3 linked regions of the Homo sapiens genome follow. The protein of the gene in region 3 purifies or fractionates together with the protein of the main gene of each other region. This does not show direct contact. Each region holds a gene or a part of one and is shown on either strand. Other genes may lie near its edges.

Region 1 (4,778 bases), on a different chromosome or scaffold from region 3:
ATATTATGCATTTACAGGGTACGTCCAACACCAAGTGGGCCAAGTGAATCAGGGTCGCTGGGCATTAGACCCAGAAATCTGTGTTCTGGAAGCATCCCAGGTGTTTCTCAGGAGTTTGAGAAGCCCTCAGTCTCCTTCCACTTCCGAGATTAGGGTCTGTGAAGGTTGTGTCTGGTCTGAATGTCCACTGCCCACTCCACCCTCTACTTACCCCACTGTGCCCTGATTAGCCAGCAGGGGGAGCCCAAAGGAAGCCAGCTCTTAAAATCTGCTCTTGGAAACAGAATTTGTTAAATTGGGGATAAACTCAAACCTTCCTTTTCTCCTAGAGTGTGTGAGGAAGTGCACTGGCCTCATGCGCAGTTCTCTGTGTGAGATCTGTAGGGAGAGAGGAGCAGACAGACAGCATCCCAGCCCTGTGGTTCTCCCAGCAGGGCCTTGCTCTGCTAGACCCATCTTTATCTGCGTGAGCCCCTCCCGGAAGCCCAGCTCTGGTCTTCTGTGGGGCCGTGGGTCCCAGGGCTGCCTCCTACCCAGGAATACAGCTAGAACATGTCTTTTTGGACTGACTTTCAGGAGACACAGGGTGGAACAGCCTAGCCTTTAAATAAACACCTCTTACACACATGTAAACACACACACTGGCTCACCCACCAGCTGCCTCTGGGCCCTGTTCTTAGGGAAATGGCTGTTTCCCAGGCAGACCCCATCAGTCAGTCTTCAGGTACAGCCGGAGAGAACACTTGCTGTATCTAAAGCCCCTGCTGGACAATGGGGAAAGAACATCCAGAAGACACAGGAAGTGTTCTGACTTCAGAGCACTTAACTGTTTTGCTAAACCAACCCATATCATAGTGTGACAGAAAGCTGGGGTCTTAAGACACATTGGGGTGGGTGGGGGTTGGGTGGGTGGCTGTATGTCTGAGTACCTAAGGTGATAGGCCTAATTGCTGCCTTCATAAATGGGACATTTACTTCACAAGCTGTTTTCCCAGGGTCTTCCTCTGGGTATGTCTGAAATATAAAAATCTGGACTGGGATTGAAGATTGTGTTTACAAATGCTTTTGAATAGGATTTCTCCTGCAGTTGTTACGTAGCTTTTCAGAAACACACAAACTACAAATAATGAACAACATCTGCAATGATTCGGCAGGGTGGCAGCATCCACGCTCTCCACCCAAACCCTGGTGGGATTTGGAGAGGCCGCTGGTGGGCAGAGGTTGGCCCTAAGCATGGCAGCCTCCGGCTTACTGCACCCAGCCTGTGGGGCGGCTCAGTAGCCGCTGACATGGTGGCCTGTTGTCTCTTCTCTTGTTCTAGTAAGCACTATCCTTTGTACTCCCTCAACGTGGCCTCCATGTGGTTGAAGCTAGGGAGACTCTACATGGGCCTGGAACACAAAGCCGCAGGGGAGAAAGCCCTGAAGAAGGTATGTCTGTAACTCGGCCTTAGGATTCCCAGTGGCCAGATGGCCTCCTTAGCGCACCTCCTTCATGCCTCACCAGGCTGAATGGCTGAAGCAGTGGAGGGTGAGCAGCTCTCACCCACCCTCTTGCCGTGGGAGCAGCGGGGGTGGGTCCTGCAGGTGAGGGGGGAGTGAGAGAGTGCACCTCTGCTGTGTTTGTGTCCAGGCCTCCCTCAAAGGGAATGGGTGCCCACATCCAGAGGGCTGGCCGTGATCACAGGCCCAGCCTGTGCCTGGAGGAATTCTCCATTTGTTTGACCTTTGGGATTTTCAGAATGATGATCCCCAGTTGTGAAATCAAGGAGGTAGGATATGGAGAGTTAGGGTTAGGATGTTAGAATTGCGCATTTGCTGTTTCTAAAATGCACTTAATCATCCTCTCAGTTCATTGAGGACCAGTTACATACCAAGACCCTCGTGTGCTTTTCCTTTGAATTCTCACAAAACCGAGAGGCTTTCCTGATGAAGAAAGTGAGGTTCAAGCAGGTTTAAGTGAGTAATAGCCTAGGGTACATGGTGGGGCCTTCATTCAAATGAGGGTCTAAATTGAAAGCTTCGGCTCCTCCCACTCAAGCTGTGATGAAACTGGTGGGGAGCCAGAACCCTGGGCAGCATTCGCCTTTGGTTTGATGGCGGCCCTGTGCTGCCCAGGAGCCAGGCCCCGACCCTCACATCATGGGAGGTCAGAGTCATCATCCTGAGTATTGATTCTCATTGTTTGTGATGTGGAATTCACAGTCAATACAGTGTAATTTAGGGGATAGTCCATTTACTCCTGTAAGAAACTTTATAAAATGCTGGGGCCATGGACAGGGCCTGCAGGCCTAATCTTTCACCTTCTCCAAAGTTTCCCAATAGACTATTTGCGAAGATGGAATAAGGCCCACATCCCAAATAGAAGGGTCAGGGCACAGCCAGGCTGGAAGGGAGCACAGAACAAAATTTTCTGTTTTAAACCATGGAATTTGTCTTCTGAGAATTAGCCATTTGGGTCACAACTGCAAAGTGTGTCAGGTGATTAAGTAATAGATCAATGAAAGCTGGAGCAGATCTGAGCAAGGAACATGAGTCTTGAAATGAATGCCTGGGCAGAGTCGGCACCTGGAACAGGTGATTTCCGAAGGCTTGCACTGTTACTTGGCCTGCCTCCTCTTGGCTTGAGATCTAGGAGGAGAATATATAATAGATAGGAATGCCTGTCATAGTCACAGGCCATTAAAAATTCTCTGGGGGAATACTTTTTTCTCTGAGTAATTTGGCTGAATACAAAAGAGCAAATACATTCTTAGAGATGACATTTGATATAAACTTCCTGTATGCCAGGCGCTGTTCGAAACACTGTATCTGAATTAACAACCCTGAGAGGTAGGTATTATTCCAGTTTTACAGTTCAGGAAAATGAGGCACAGAGTGGTTAAGTAAATTACCCAAGGCCACACAGCTAGGAAATGATTAAACCACTGGAAACTTGACCATGTTACATTGCCTCACTATAAAGAAACCTTAAGTACATTCTCTAGCATCCCTCAATGAAACCTGCTACCTTTCTTTTAAGTTTTTAGAATATGTATTAAAAGGAAAGAGTATGCTTTTCGAAAGGGAAAAATAGTTTAGCTACGTCTTGCAGGTTAGTAATGTCAACTAAAAATCAAAATAGCTTTGATATAAAATTCACTATGGACTTTACCAGCATCACCTATTTTCTGGGTTGAACATAATCAAAAAAATTAGTCCTTAAAGCATGTTTTACTGAAAGATCTAGAATCTTGGGGCAAGAGAATGTCATGAAATCAGTTTCATGACATCGTTTCTCCAGCTGGATATTTTTGCAGAATGTTTTACCTAGCAGTAGACACTGGATGAGTTAGCTACCAGATGGTCTTCTCCTTTTTTAAAAAAAAACCAAGGCCAGGCACGGTGGCTCATGCCTGTAATCCCAGCACTTTGAGAGGCCAAGGCGGGCGGATCACGAGGTCAGGAGATCGAGACCATCCTGGCTAACACAGTGAAACCCCGTGTCTACTAAAAATACAAAAAATTAGCCAGGCATGGTGGTGGGCGCCTGTGGTCCCAGCTACTCGGGAAGCTGAGGCAGGAGAATGGCGTGAACCCGGGATGCGGAGCTTGCAGTGAGCGGAGATCGCACCACTGCACTCCAGCCTGGGCGACAGAGCGAGACTCCGTCTCAAAATAAATAAATAAATTAAAATAAAAACAGGTCCTGGTGGAGAACATAGGCTCTAATGGCCAGTTTGCATCCTGTGCCTTAAAGCAGAGAGATCCAACTTAAAGTTACCCTGGGTGGAGGTGTGAGGAGATTGGCTTCTAGGCTCTCATTGTTTGTCTTGCTTTTTCCTAGGCCATTGCAATCATGGAAGTAGCTCACGGCAAAGATCATCCATATATTTCTGAGATCAAACAGGAAATTGAAAGCCACTGAAACTATGCAGCATTTCAGTTTTCATTTAAACACTTAGTTCAGAAACCTTAAAGGATTTGAATATTTCAAATTGCACACGTCACTCCAGCATCTCTGTAAAATAATTGGAATGAAAATACTTCTTGCACTTAAACACTGCACATGCCGTACTTTGAGGTTAGTCTGAATCTTGAACTTTAATACCAAATTAATTTTGAATGCTTTTGTTTCCTAAGAGATAATGGCATGGTTTCATATGTTATACTTTGGACAGACAGAGTTTTAAAAATGGAATTATTTTTTCTTTCATGCCTCTTGTAATGTTCTGAACAAACTTGAATGATGAAAGTATTAAAGAGATATCAGTATTTGAGGTTTGTATTTTCTTCTGTCTCTGGGGAGGATTTCTCAGTGGTGGTGGGAGCCCAGTCTTGGAGTGAAAGTGACACCTGCTGTCCATAATTCAGCAAGCTCAAGTCTTCTCCATGGGACTGGGGTCGGGCAGCCTCTTTATTCTGCAGTTGCTCTTGTGGGGCTGTGCCTGTGGAGGAAGAAAATGGGAAGAAAGAGAAAAAGGTACACGAAGGAAAGAAAACTATCATCTATCTGTGGTGGAGGAACAGTCCAGTGACCCAAGTGCCCTCCAGCAGGCGAGGTTTTGAATCTGTTCTCTGGTGCCTGGTATTCCTTCAGTGTGTAAAGGTGCTTAGTGCGTGCTTTGCTTTCTTGGCTTTTCTGTCCCCATCTGTCTGAAAGCAGACTTGCCATCTCTCATTCTGTTGATTGTTCTGTGCAGTACTCTCCTTTTTGGAAAAACTCCAGGGTATGCTTGGGAAGGAAAAAAATGTTTTTCCTTACCAACCAACGCTGTGTTGTTGAGTAAACACTGATCT
Region 2 (7,305 bases), on a different chromosome or scaffold from region 3:
ATACTGTGTTACATTAAAATCCATTGGTCTATCTTGCCCTTTCATTGGCTGCTTTACCCATATATGGTTTTATAACATCAGCCATTGGTCGTTTAGAAAATGTTGGTTCAGTGAGTTATGCAAATCTAAACGTTGACCTTTCAGATGCCATTATACGGTATTTAAAAAATCACATTTGTTAATATCACCACCTATTTCATTTTAAAAAGGAGTTTAAGTATTAGGAAACTATCAAACTCAAGGTAATGGAAACAAGTTTTCAACTTGTTTTCACTTGACAGCTTGAATTTTAACATTGGCAGCAAATATTGTCAGCTGTTTCCTTGAAGTGACAGACTCACTTATTTCATATTTGAGAAAATTTCTGCCAAATTCCCAAGACTGAATAACCAAAATTTGTCTATTATTTTATTTACTGCCATGTACTCACATTTAAAACAAACAAACAATTATTTTTATTTAAGAATGTCCTGATGGTTGGGTTCAGTGGCTCACGCCTATAGTCCCACCGCTTTGGGAGGCCAAGACAAGAGGATCTCTTCAGCCCAGAAATTCAAGACCAGCTTCGTCAACATAGTGAGACTCCATCTCTACTAAATAAATAAATAAAATAAATAAATAAATAAATAATAGTCAGGCATGGTAGCATGCACCTGTGGTTCTAGCTGCTAAGGAGACTGAGGTGTGGGGATCACTTGAGCCCAGGAGGTCAAGACCAGCCTGGGCAACTTAGTGAGACCCCATCTCTGTAAAAAGTAAAAAATTAGACAGGTATAGTGGCTCGTGCCTGTAGTCCCAGCCACTCAGGATCAGTTGAGCTTAGGAGGTTGAGGCTACAGTGAGCCATGACTGTGCCACTGCACTCCAGCCTGGGCAAAAAGACCTTGTCTAGAGAGAGAGAGAGCAGGGGGTGGGGTGGGGGGAGAGAGGAGAGAGAAAGGAAGGAAGGAAAGAAGGGAGGGAGAGGAGAGAGAAAGGAAGGAGGAAAGAAGGGAGGGATGGAAGAAGGGAGGGAGGAAGGAAGGAGGGAAGGTTTCTAGTACATTGTGGTAACATTGCCTTGATTCAGACTGCAAGCAGTTTTACCCACCATTGCTTTGTGTCATAAGTACAAATGTCAACACAGCCAGATGGGGTGGCTCACGCCTGTAATCCCAGCACTTTGAGAGGCCAAGGTGGGCGATCACCTGAGGTCGGGAGTTTGAGACTAGCCTGGCCAACATGGTGAAACCCTGTCTCTACTAAAAATACAAAAATTAGCTGGGCATGGTGGCACATAACTGTGGTCCCAGCTACTTGGGGGAGGCTGAGGCAAGAGAATCGCTTGAACCCAGGAGGCAGAGGTTGCAGTGAGCCAAGATCATGCCACTGTATTGCAGCCTGGGCAACAGAGTGAGACTGTCTCAAAAGAAAAAAAATTCAACACAGTGAAATACTCTTCAAATTATGATTAAAATACTTTTGTCTTTGTGGACCCCTCCTTCTCCCAGGATCTGCACCTTTGAGAAACATTGCTACAGTCCATTTTCAGGAAGGCTGCTTTGTGCCTTCTAATGAGCATCTCTGTACTTGCAGTCTTAGGACGTTATTGTAGCCTAGTAGAGGGGTATGTTCATTTTCAGATTGGCCCCCAAAAGGAAAAATTTATTCTCAGAAGTGTTTACCCTAGGGTCATATTTGACCTCCAAAGAATCCCATTTTCTGTTCTGATTTTTTAAACTTTGATTTACACTTTTTTTTTTTTTTTTTTTTTTGAGACAGAGTCTCGCCCTGTCACCCAGGCTGTAGTACAGTGGCGTGATCTTGGCTCACTGCAACCTCTGCCTCCCAGGTTCAAGCGATTCTCTTGCCTCAGCCTCCTGAGTAGCTGGGATTACAGGTGCACGCCACCACGCCTGGCTAACTTTTTTGTTTTTTGTTAGTAGAGATGGGGTTTCACCATGTTGGTCAGGCTGGTCTCGAACTCCTGACCTCAGGTTATCCACCTGCCTCAGCCTCCCAAAGTGCTGGGATTATAGCCATGAGCCACCGCACCTGGCCCTGATTTATACATAATTTTATAGGCACATACCTATTTATTGGATAAAGTGAAGCATACCTTATTGTGATTCTAACTAACTAGGTAAGCCAAGCCTGGCCTTATTAGAAAGATGTTTACTTCCTACGTTCACAAAAGCTTAAATGTCTAGCAGATGCCCTCCAAACTGGACTGTAATTTAGTTTATTCGGCATGTCTTAATCACCATAGCTTTTCACAACCCTTTCCCTGGCCTTTTGATTTTGACTTTGGGCAGGTCCTATCTGTTTCTGTGATGCAGTGTAATGTCCTTAGGTTTGGGGGCCAGATAGCCCTGGATTTGAATCTCTGCTGTACACTTTGACCTCTCTGAGCCTTGGTTTTCCTGTCAGTAAAATGGACATGATAATGAAGCCTACCTTGTTTTGTGGCTTCAATGAAACAATGCATCAAGTCTGGCATATAAAAAAATGTTCCTGGCTGGGCGCGGTGGCTCACGCCTGTAATCCCAGTACTTTGGAAGGCCGAGGCAGGCAGATCACCTGAGATCAGAAGTTCGAGACCAGCCTGACCAACATGGAGAAACCCTGTCTCTACTAAAAAAATGCAAAATTAGCTGGGTGTGATGGTGCATGCCTGTAATCCCAGCCACTTGGGGGGCTGAGGCAGGAGAATCGCTTGAATCTGGGAGGCAGAGGTTGTGGTGAGCCGAGATTGCGCCATTGCACTCCAGCCTGGGCAACAAGAGCGAAACTCCGTCTCAAAAAAAAAAAAAGTTCCTACAGCCAGGCGCGGTGGCTCATGCCTGACTTTGGGAGGCTGAGATGGGTGGATCACGAGGTCAGGAGTTCAAGACCAGCCTGGCCAAGATGGTGAAATCCTGTCTCTACTAAAAATACAAAAATTAGCCAGGTGTGGTGGCGGGTGCCTGTAATCCCAGATACTCGGGAGGCTGAGGCAGAGAATTGCTTGAACCTGGGAGGCGGAGGTTGCAGTGAGCTGAGATTGCACCACCGCACTCTAGCCTGGGCCAGTGAGTGAGACTCTGTCTCAAAAAAAAAAAAAAAGTTCCTATATAGTAGCTGTTGTTATCATTATCTGCAAATAGGCAGACTTATTCCACACAGTTGACAGAAGAGGGAAGCGTGCTGATGAAGCTCTCTAGCAGATGATAACTTTTGTAATTAGCACACTCTTTGCTTAAGAGAAAATCCAATGTTTGACATTTTTTATTCCATGAAGGTACATTGGCAGTGTGTGTTTTCTGCCTATGAAAATGTTCGCCTTTCTGTTAAAGTTGAATTTTCCCCAGTACTTTAAAAATATGAAATGGTTTAGGAAAAAAAATTCTATTTCATTTTCAAGGAACATAATAATTAGACAAAAGTTCAGCACATTGATATAATTAGAAAGGATTTGGAAGTTGTTCATTTGCTTTTCACTGCTCCCCTAGAGCAAATATTCAACATTTCCCTTGTTTATACTGTTCATTTGCTTAGCAAACTTTCTCAAATAATTAATAATGCCAAGATGATATTTAGCCTCACTTGTCCAAATAATCCCAGACTGCAAACAGGTGATGGTTGAATTAGGAAGGTTTTGCTGAGAGTACACCATCGGTTTAGCTGGTCTCTCCTGTCCTTGTGTGGTATTTACCTGGCTTCTTGGTGATTTGTCTGTTTCTCTTACTACTTAAACCCAGCAAAAAAAATAATAAAATAACAATCAAATGCAATAAAACAAAGCAAGCATTCAGCAGGTGAAATAAACATACATCCCATAGACTCTTTGTGTCTGTTCTGTTTTCTTCTTGTTCCAATCCTTCTATCTGATTAGTTTCTTTTCTCTCAGATTTTTTCAGAGTTCGTTCCTCCTGTCACTTTAACTTATAGGAAGTCGGCCCATAATGTTTTGCTTATTTTTCCTTATGAGATTCATTCCATGATTCAACATTTCAGTGCCTTCCGTGCATTGGAATTCAGAGATGCCAAAATGAGTAAGATTGAATCCAGGTGAAGGCGATATGGGAATTCATTGTACTATTCTTGACATTTTTCTGTGAAGTTGATTTTTTTTTTTTTTTTTGAGGTGGAGTCTCACTTTGTAGCCCAGGCTGGAGTACAGTGGCGCGATCTTGGCTTACTGCATCCTCCGCCTCCCGAGTTCCAGTGATTCTGCTGCCTCAGCCTCCTGGGTAGCTGGGATTACAGGCACATGCCACCACGCCCAACTAATTTTTGCATTTTTAGTACAGACGGGGTTTCACCATGTTGCCCAGGCTGGTCTCGAACTCCTGACCTTAGGTGATCCAACCCTACCCCTTGGCCTCCTAAAGTGCTACGGTTACAGGTGTGGATTTTTTTTTTTTTTTTTTTGAGACAGAGTCTTGCTCTGTTGCCCAGGCTGGAGTGCAATGGTGAGATAACTCACTGGTGCGTCCATCTCCTGGCTCAAGCGATCGTCCCATGTCAGCTGTCCAAGTAGCTGGGACTACAGGTGTGTGCCACCATGCCCAGCTAATTTTTTATTTTTTGTGGAGATGGGGGTCTTGCTATGTTGTCCAGGCTGGTCTCCATCTCCTGAGCTCAAGTGATCCTCCCACCTTGGCCTCCCAAGTTGCTAAGATTACAGGCATGAGCCACTATGCCTGGCTGGAAATGAATTCTTTATATCAGAGCTTGCACAAGTGGGCTGAAACAGCCCACATGCATGTTTATTTGGCTCATAATGTTTTGTTTTTTAAATTTTTGAATTAGTTGTCAACATTGAAAAATGAGCAGATTTCTTATAAATACCTGATTGTGGTATTTTCTTGAAAATATCAATAAAGTCTGTTAACACCAAATCAGAATTCTGCATGGCAACAATTGTCCCACCACCCGAGTTAAGTGGAGACTTTGCCCTTTAAGAGGGAGGTGGGCCTGTCTAATGACTGGCTTCTCTCATTGTGTCTGTCACTCCTAGGCCTGTCAGCATTTGTACTTAGAATTCTACTTTAGTATTAACTTGTACAGTTGTGAAAACTCCTGTGGACTTCCTTGTATGCCATACTGGACTATACTTATTCTTTTTGTTTGTTTTTTTGTTTTTAGATAGAGTCTTGTTCTCTCACCCAGGCTGGAGTGCAGTGGTGCGATCTCAGCTCACTACAGCCTCTGCCTCCTGGGTTCCAGTGATTCTCCTGCCTCAGCCTCCTAAGTAGCTGGGATTACAGGTGTGTGCCACCACACCTGGCTAATTTTTGTATTTTTAGTAGGGATGGGGTTTCATATGTTGGCCAGGCTGGTTTCGAACTCCTGACCTCAAGTGATCTGCCTGCCTTGGCCTCCCAAAATGCTGGGATTACAGGCATGAGTCACCATGCCCAGTTTCTTTTTGTTTTAATCTGAAAAAAAGGGAATATATTATCTGCCTTTAGAAACTTCATAGTATGGTGAGAAAGCAGACATAAACAGATGACTACATTTCAACATGGGAGTCCTTAGAAGATAATATTTGTAGAGGTCTTCCCCTTTCCCAAAGCAGTGTGGCCCACTGCCTGCTATTGTAAATAAAGTTTTATTGGAATGCAGCAGCACCCTTTCACATACATATAGTCCATGGCTGTTTTCTTGCAGAGTTGAGTAGTTGTAAAAGAGACTTATGTGGCCCACGGGCCAAAAATATTTACTATCTGGGCCTGTACAGGAAACGTTTGCTGACTGTTGCCGTGGCAGATCTGATTTGATTCCTGAGACAGCTCAATGGGATACTGTGATTGTGTCTGTTTTATACCACACACCTAGTAGGTAGCAGAGCCAGGACTCAGTCGAATAAGGTCTACACTTGGTAGTATGTTATGGAAGGCCCATTTCAGCCTTGTTACTGCCAGTGTGTGGCCAGGTTCTCACACCTGGAGAGTGAGTCTGTGGGGAAGAACTGGCCACTGGGCTGATGGAATAATATACATTTTGAAAGGTACCCGTTTTGACTACATTCCCAGCTCCCTCAGCATCTGGTCCCATGACTGCTTCTCTCTTTCCAAATGGGAGTAGGCTAATGCAGAGCAATGTGGTTGGTTGCAAGGAAGAACTTGAAACTGTTTGCAGAGCACTTTATGTAAAAGTAAGAAAGTGTGACTACTGATGTCCCATGGGGCTTTGCAGCTTTAACAATTGCCCTATGGATCATATCACCTTGAAGTATAGAATTTCTCTGGGGAATTAGCTCCCCTCCAGTCTCATCTTTTTAGACACTTGCCTACCTGCTCTCACACCCAGAGGTTTTACACTGCGCTGTACAGTGTCTATCAATATGTTTTTCCATATTCAAAAATAGTGATTTCAGGCCAGGCATGGTGGCTCATGCCTGTAGTCCTAGCACTTTGGGAGGCTGAGGCAGGAGGATCAGTTGAGCCCAGGAGTTTGAGATCAGCCTGGGCAACACGGTGAGACCCCACCTCTACAAAAAATTGTTAAAAATTATTTGGGCATGTTGACACATGCCTGTGGTTTCAGCTACTCGGGAGGCTGAGGTGGGATCACCTTAGCCCAGGAGGTTGAGACTACAGTGAGCTGTGATCATGCCACTGCACTCTAGCCTGGGCAACAGAGCAAGACCCTGTCTCAAAAAAAAAAAAAAAATAGTAAGGTCATGGTGGCTCATACCTATAATCTCAGCACTTTGGGAGGCCGAGGCAGGCGGATCACTTGAGGTCAGAAGTTTGAGAACAGCCTGGCCAACATGGTGAAACCCCGTCTCTAGTAAAAATACAGAAATTAGCCAGGCATGGTGGCACCTGCCTATAATCCCAGCTTCCTGGGAGACTGAGGTGGGAGAATCATTTGAATCCAGGAGGCAAAGGTTGCAGTGAGCCTAGATCGCGCCACTGCACACCAGCCTGGGCGACAGAGCGAGACTCTGTATAAAAAAAATAAATAAATAAAAAATCCAGGTGTGGTGGCTCACGCCTGCAATCCCAACACTTTGGGAGACTGAGGCGGGCAGATCACGAGGTCAGGAGTTCAAGACTAGCCTGGCCAACATGGTGAAACCCCGTCTCCACTAAAAATACAAAAATTAGCCGGGCGTGGTGGCGGGTGCCTGTAATCCCAGCTATTCAGGAGGCTGAGGCAGGAGAATCGCTTGAACCTGGGAGGCAGAGGTTGCAGTGAGCTGAGATCGCGCCACTGCAGTCCAGCCTGGGCTATAGAGTGAGACTCTGTCTCAGAAAAAAAAAAAAAAAAAAAAAAGGTAATTTCACATAAGAACCTGGACTTCTCAGTCTCTTGATAAACAGGGTGCTTTGG
Region 3 (7,305 bases):
ACTCTCTATGATACAATAATCAAAGCAAAAACTGACTGTGATGATGTCATCTGACAGATGTCCGAGGAAAGATATCTCACTGGTTGGTGGCCCGAGAGAGGCCTCTTATGCTTCTAAGATCCAATGGATCTGTCCCACCTCTTGGCCCTCTGGTGCCATCCTGGGCTTCACTGCTGCTGGACATGCTGTTCTTCCCCTTCACAGACTACTTCCTTTCAGTCACCTTTTCAGTTTCTTCTCCATCCCCCACCCATGGCCTCCAACTCTGCAGCCCTCTGCTCTCCTCTCTCTGTCTTGTCTCCAGAGTTCCATCTTCTCACCCGACCTGGACCATTACTCCCATTCCCACAGGCACTGCAGCTTTTTTTCAGAACTGAAAGTTTAAATTCCCCCTTTATCCTTCTCCTTCTTCCCCTACAACCAAAAAGAAATAAAATAGCTCTCTGATTCACTCCCTGCTCCTTTTTGCCTGTGGTCACTGTAATTCGAGGCTTGGCCACTCATACTGGATCACTCTATACCTGTCATCTGGATCTCTCTTCTTCCAGATCATCCTGGGGCCTGTCAGGCCAATCTTCTAAGAACAAAATGTCAATCCTGATGAAGTCTAGCAATATTTAGAAGCCACATTCCAAACCAGAGGGTGAGGAATTTCATGCATCAAGAGGGCCTGCCATTCTCACCCCATTCCTCCCTTCTGACTCCAGCTCAGCCTGTGCCGCCATCTCCCTCACCTGGATGACAGCTACAGCTTGCTGGCCCCTCCCCTACTCAGCACACAGGTGTTGATACAACCACATCACTCCTTCAGTTAAAACCCTTCAGGGACTTCTCATCGCTCATGAAGCAAAATCCAAATTTCTTACAAGGCCCCAAAAATGCCTCATACTACACATTACGTCACCTCCTTTCTCACTATGCTCTGGCCACACTGGCTTCTGCCATTCCTCTCACAGGACAAGCCCTCTCCTGCCTCTAGACCTTTGCACTTGCTGTTTCCTCTCTCCCTGGTGTGCTCTGCCCTCAGCTCTCTGCACATTTGGTTCCTTCTCATTCTTTGGGGCCCAGTCAAGTTGCTTATTCAGAGAGGCCTTACCTGACCATTCTTTTACAATCTGTGATTACTATTTGTCTATTTGTTAAAGTCTCTCTCCCACCACTAGCAGATAAGCTGTGTGAGGGTGAGGATGTTGTTTGCAAAGCTGCTGTATAAAGCTGCTGTATAAAGCCACTGTGTAGACTACAGTGTGAAGGAATTCCCCAGGGTTGTGTGACCCAGTGGCCCTGCCTGGCTGTTTTGTTCACAATAATATTCGCAGTGCTTGGCATGCAGTAGATGCTTGATACATATGTACTGAATGAATGATTCACTAATGCTGTAAGTTTGGAATATAGAAAATCAGGAGAGAGGCTTGGATACCCACCAAACTATAGCATTGACATTTAACCCCCATAGTACTGCCAGGACAGTGTGACTAAGCTCCTACCCTGGTTTCCCTATTGGCCATTTCCCCTAAACCTGGTCTGGTAGAGGGGCCTCAGACATGCCGCCCAGCTTTTGCCAGTTCCTCCCTCCCTGGAGGCTGGACCCAGTTTCCTATACCATATTTCTTATCTTGGGTGACTATAAAAGATAAAAATGTGAGGCCTGGGCCCAGGCACGGTGGCTCATGCCTGTAATTCCAGCACTTTGGGAGGCCGAGGCTGGTGGATCATTTGAGATCAGGAGTTCAAGACCAGCCTGGCCAATATGGTGAAACCCTGTCTCTACTAAAAAATACAAAAATTAGCCAGGCATGGTGGTGGGCACCTGTAGTCCCAGCTACTCAGAAGGCTGAGTCAGGAGAATCGCTTGAACCCAGGAGGTGGAGGCTACAGTGAGCCAAGATGGCGCCATTGCACTCCAGCCTGGGTGGCAGAGAGAGACTCCAACTCAAAAAAAAAGTGAGGCTTGGGCTTCAGCAAATATTTCTATGATGTTCCCCTCAGTTCTGAAGGGAAGCCCCCTAGTATCTGCCTTCTAAAACAGAACCTTTGTGAATATGTGATTCCAAGGACAGGGTTTCTTATTAATAATCAAAGTAAAGCCAAGTCATTTATATTACCAGGCAAGTATCGAGAGTGCTTCAAATAGTGCTGCTTGGCTGCAGATCTCAGGGTGGGCGTGTCTCGCCGCTGATATGACGTCTGGGTGGGGGCACTGTTTCCTGTGCCCACAGGCTCAGAGGGCTTCAGGTCCAAAACACTCTCAAACCTGAATGAAGAGAGCATGGCTTGGGTCAGCACGAGAGACAGTATGTATTCTCGGATATGTACCCATAATCTCATGAATTCCAGATTCAGTCTGTTTACAAATGTGAGCAGCACACTTGCCTGCAGAGAGTGTCATCACTCTGTCTTTTCTTGTTTTTCAGGTCAATCCTGCTGAGGGATGGACTGAAATCCAAGTCATCCAAGTCAGCCCAATCATCTGAATCCTTTGTTGACCTGGAAATAAGACCCCACCTTCTCCTACTCTTTGGCTTTATCTCACCATTTTTGTGCTCCAGGCCAGCTGTGATTTTCTGTGTAAACAAACGGGGTGGGGGAAAGCAATACTTGGCATTAACAGAACTCATCCATGAGTAATCTCCATCTGAACTTTCTCTGCTATGCAAAGGAGGCTCCTGGGGCATAACATTGCTTATCTGAAGGGGCAACTGTAGAAAACACATTCCCAATCTTTCTGTCTCACTCATCCTTCACAGATTGTATCAGCTGCCATCCATTGATGATGTTAAAGTTGTATAAAATAAGGATAAAAAAATTTTTAAGATACTTCTTACACACCAGGAAGATGGCTAAATTCATACTCAGTCTCATCCTAGATGAGTTAATATGATCTCTGTTATAAATATGGATGTAAGAAATTAAGGCTAAGATGTCAGTTAGCCTGTCCTTTTACAGAAATCAATGCAAATAATGCTTTTTTTTGCCTTCTCAGTATATATAGTTACTATCTCTTAGCTATAAAGAATTAGCTACAACAGGACATTTCCATACACATACCACTTCTAAATTGTGTGCTGCAATAAAGTGACTAGGCCAGAGATACCACCCTTGCATCTCACATTGTGGTGGTTGGGAGCCAGCAGTCAGCAAATACTAACTGACACAGAAAGTGCCACTTTTTCATAAAGGATAGACAGTTGGCCTCTTCAGACAGCACTGCAAAGCTAATAAAAAATAGAACCCCTTGTCAGGTTATTATTTTACTAAATCTAACACTCATTTTTTTCTTTTGAAAAGCAGCCAAAGAGGAGCAGAAAGATCTGGGCTCAGTTAATAGCCCAGCATTAACATATTGAATAACAGCAGTAATGTGGATAACAATCTACAAATATTAACACAGCGCTTTATGCTTTTCAAAATATCTTAAAAACATCATGGCCTTTGATCCTCATGAACAACCCTGTCTGGTAGGTAAGACATGCACTATAATCTTCCTTTGATAAATGAGGAAACTGAATCCATAGGGATTAATAACAATTACTGACCTTTACAGAGTTGTAACTAGGTGCCAGGTATTATTCTAAATTCTTTTCAAGTATTAACTCATTAGTCCTCAAAGCAATTGTATCAGGTAAGTACTATTATTATCCTTATTTTACAGATGAGGAAAATGAGGAGCAGAGAAGCCAGATAACTTGCATAGGTATCAAGCTACTAAACAGCAGAGCTGAGATTTGAGCCCCTGGCAGTCTGGCTGCAGAGGCCAGCTCCCAGCCACTACCCTATAGCTGCCTCCATTAGTGACAACGGTTTTAACAGGCACAGCCAGAACTTGAATTTAGATCTTTCACTCCAAAGCCAAGGGTCTTTACAATTCCATGCTGTTGCAAACATAAATCTACCATAACTGGACCCTGTATACTGAAAAAGAAAATATTTCACACAATAATGGGGTCAGAAGAGGAATAAACAGACACGAAGCTCACTGGTGAATCTGGGCTGCTCACCGACTGTGGATGCTTGTTGTGGAGGGATGGGAAAAGCAACGGGCTTGGCTTGTCCTCCTGGAGATGGCTTGGGTGATCTGTCCTGGAGACCTCTGCTTTGTAGGGGTACGTGAGATGCAGAGGGGGCTGGCTGGCTTGATGCTGTCGTGAAGAAATTCGTGTGTGTGGCTTGGCTGGTGGCTGGGCAGGTGGGACTGGCTTAATATAAGGAGGTGGGCCTGCCTTTTCCAGGATGCCTTTCTGTGGTTTTTCTGAATCCTGAAGGTTTTGTGTGGTGCTGCCTAGTGGGTGTCCAACTTGGAAGTAAGGATATCGAAGTGCCTGGAATGACAAATAAGGCTTTAGGAGAAAAGTCTAGCCAGGAAAGTTACCACTGTCTTGATTACTGGGCTATATTTCATTGTGACCAGTTTACTACTGTTTCTTAGCCCAATTAGAAAACAGTACCTTGAATTTTTAACACCCCTTGTGATTTTTCTTATCTAAGATACCATAAAATATATGTAATGATTGCAACACAAAGTTATTTATATATAGTAGCCAGTTACACTGCTGTTACCCTGGCTACTTCTAAAAAGCATTCTGGATCAACACAGATCCTGGTTTTGTAACTTATTTGCTATGTGTCTTAAATAGAGTATTTCATCCTTCCAAGCCTATTTCCTCATTCCACAGAAGAAGAAAAAAATAATACAAAACTGAAAGAGCCAAACATAATGATCCTGGAAGACTCTGAAGAATTGAGTACAAAATAAGCAGGCACATATGCTTTTATCCCAAAAGTGCCAAGAGTGTAATACATGATATAGTTAACCCTTCCCTATCAAGAACAAAACCGTGTCAGTTGTTCTGGATAACTGAGTTTTCTGGATAGCCAAGAGATAACTTAAAGTTTAGGGGGTTACAATTCTTTCTGAAATATTTCCTATATTCTCTTGTCTTTCTGAATGAAAGTTATTAAGCATAACATAATCTTTCTGAGTAGGCCTGGGACAGTTATAAACATCTGTAATGATTATATGCAAGTGTAGATACAGAGGCAATTAATGGGAATAGCCTGGTAGAGGTCCCAGACTCTAGCATCTATTATAACTTGAAAGCCTTCTCTGTAGTCACAGACATTTTTGCAAGTCTTAACTGATTTGGGGGGTATTTTTAGCTTTTCACACTATTCTTAAAAGCATACATTCCTCTCTTGCTTCCTTGTTACAGAATCTTTTTCTTTCCATTTCTTACATGCATCTGTTAAAAAACTGGGTTCATCCAAAAGCTTCTTTTCTGCCCTGCAGCCATTTGTGAATTTCACCACCAGAACTGCATTCCTGAGAGCTTTCCAGCCCTTGAGCCATCCAAAGTCTTACGGCACCAAATTGTAGTTCTTTTTTCCTTGAGCTTTCAGAAAATTGCTTTTCTACACTCCTTAATTATTCCTCCAACTATCATCTCCCCAGCTATCACAAATTCTACCACCACATTGGCACTTTTCTTCAAATATCCTCATCACTCTTCTTCTGAACATCTTCTCTGATTAGAATTGGTCACTTATATGATCCTCTGAGCAATGTAATTGTCAGTGAGACAAGTTGAGAAGGGGCCAGATGTAACTACCACAAAAGGAGGCTTGCAAGATGCCTGTGAGTGATAAGAGCCCCCAGCGTTACCATACCTCTTTTGGGTATATTTCATTATTTAAGTCTAAGTGGCCCATGGGAGGATGGATTGGGAAAGGAGCTATGAAACCAGTGGACCTGACTTCATACTTCCGGTCAGTTGGTTGAATTGTAGTTAGTTGCACTATTTGAACTAATTAATGGATGAGTGATTAGAGCAAATTGCTTAAACTTTCCAAGATTGAGTTTTCTCACTCACAGAATTGAAAACAATAATGCCTGTCTCATGGAGTCTTTATTGGATTAAAAATCATATAAAATATATTCAAGCATTTGCACACTGTAAAGTGCTATGAAATACTAAGTGCAGTTACTATCCTAGGTCTATCTCATCTGTCAATCTCTTCAGGTTATGAGTCAGTTGGACTTTTACATAATATGAAGTTGCCTTTCAACAACCAGTACCGGCTTATAAACAAACTACTATATAATTGTAACTCATAGAGAATAGATTTGAAAACATTCTCCAAAGACAGATAAATATATGTTTATTTCCATTTCCATATAAATGGTGATATATCATGTGAATTACATGCCAATTTTCAAAGCAACTATATTGTTTACATTGTAACTACTTTATACCCAGTAAGTTTCAAACTATTTTAAGTTCTCATACCTTATATAGTACACCATTAGTGGTATTCTGTACTATTTCTCACCCATAATACTAAATACTAAATATTTCCTGTGCAATTCATAGAAATTATTCAGAGTTAGATATGAACGTTATAACAAGAAAATGGAAGAAAACCTGACTAGCTGTTGGTCGTTTCTTGGGATCCCACTGAAGCATGTCTCTCAGGAGCTGGACTGCTTCACTGCTAGCATTGGGAATCAAGGTCTTTAAGTTATTGGGTACACACTGTGGCCAACGGAAGTTCATTGCACTTGAAAGTTGATAGCCTTCAGGCCAGTCAGTCTGAAAGAAGGAAAAGATAGAAAATCTTGCTCAGCCAATTGCTGTGATATAAGTTTGTATTCTGGCATGTGTGCCCCAAATGGAAAGGCAACCATGTCATTACCCACCCACATTCATTAACCACCCACATTCACTACTGTGGCACTGTATGGAATGAGACATAGATTTAGATTAATAGAGAGACCACCAAGACCATGAAATCTGGGGGAATAGTGGAAAAGACACTGGATTTGCCAACTTAATTATCTTTACATAAGAGATTCTCTTGAGATTTTGGGATTGAAACAAATTAATATTTCCCCAACTGTGTTCCATGAGACAGAGGTTCTGAAAACTGCCAATGAGATATTCTTTTGGGGAAAACAAAATAAAACAAAACATTTTGTTCCTGGACAAATAAATTTGTGAAACTCTACCTACAGTATCTTCAACTTGGTGATTGAAAGTATACATGTGGAGAAAACCAGCAGTAAAGAAAGGTGTTTCACCCAGTCTCAAGCTTTCCACTTTTTCATGCATCATTTCTATGGGACACTAAATGCTGGAGGGAATGATGGAAAATGCTAAAGAAATGGTCTTTAAGGTTCCTTCTAGTTCTAACACTCTACTATTTTATAACATACAGCCTAAGGTAATTGTTCCTCCACTCCTTTTTAAAGCCAAGTGGCAATACATATAGCTTTTATCGTTCATTCACTTGACAGTTCTGGAATGCCTA

Evidence for each region.
Region 1: the proteins of CILK1 (region 3) and SMYD2 purify together in Homo sapiens (affinity purification with mass spectrometry; 2 studies listed by BioGRID and IntAct, with this or other methods). This does not show direct contact.
Region 2: the proteins of CILK1 (region 3) and KATNIP purify together in Homo sapiens (affinity purification with mass spectrometry; 3 studies listed by BioGRID and IntAct, with this or other methods). This does not show direct contact.

Annotation. Positions count from the first base shown.
Region 1 is NC_000001.11:214,332,879-214,337,656, forward strand, and holds the end of SMYD2 (N-lysine methyltransferase SMYD2), read left to right. Parts: intron 1-1,321; coding exon 1,322-1,430; intron 1,431-3,825; coding exon 3,826-3,906; 3' UTR 3,907-4,253; downstream 4,254-4,778. UniProt on the Homo sapiens protein: Protein-lysine N-methyltransferase that methylates both histones and non-histone proteins, including p53/TP53 and RB1. Specifically trimethylates histone H3 'Lys-4' (H3K4me3) in vivo. The activity requires interaction with HSP90alpha.
Region 2 is NC_000016.10:27,553,058-27,560,362, forward strand, and holds part of KATNIP (katanin-interacting protein), read left to right. Parts: intron 1-556; exon of another isoform or gene 557-576; intron 577-7,305. UniProt on the Homo sapiens protein: May influence the stability of microtubules (MT), possibly through interaction with the MT-severing katanin complex.
Region 3 is NC_000006.12:53,009,664-53,016,968, forward strand, and holds part of CILK1 (serine/threonine-protein kinase ICK), read right to left. Parts: intron 6,588-7,305; coding exon 6,420-6,587; intron 4,320-6,419; coding exon 3,999-4,319; coding exon of another isoform or gene 3,978-3,998; intron 2,565-3,977; coding exon 2,374-2,564; intron 2,255-2,373; coding exon 2,106-2,254; intron 1-2,105.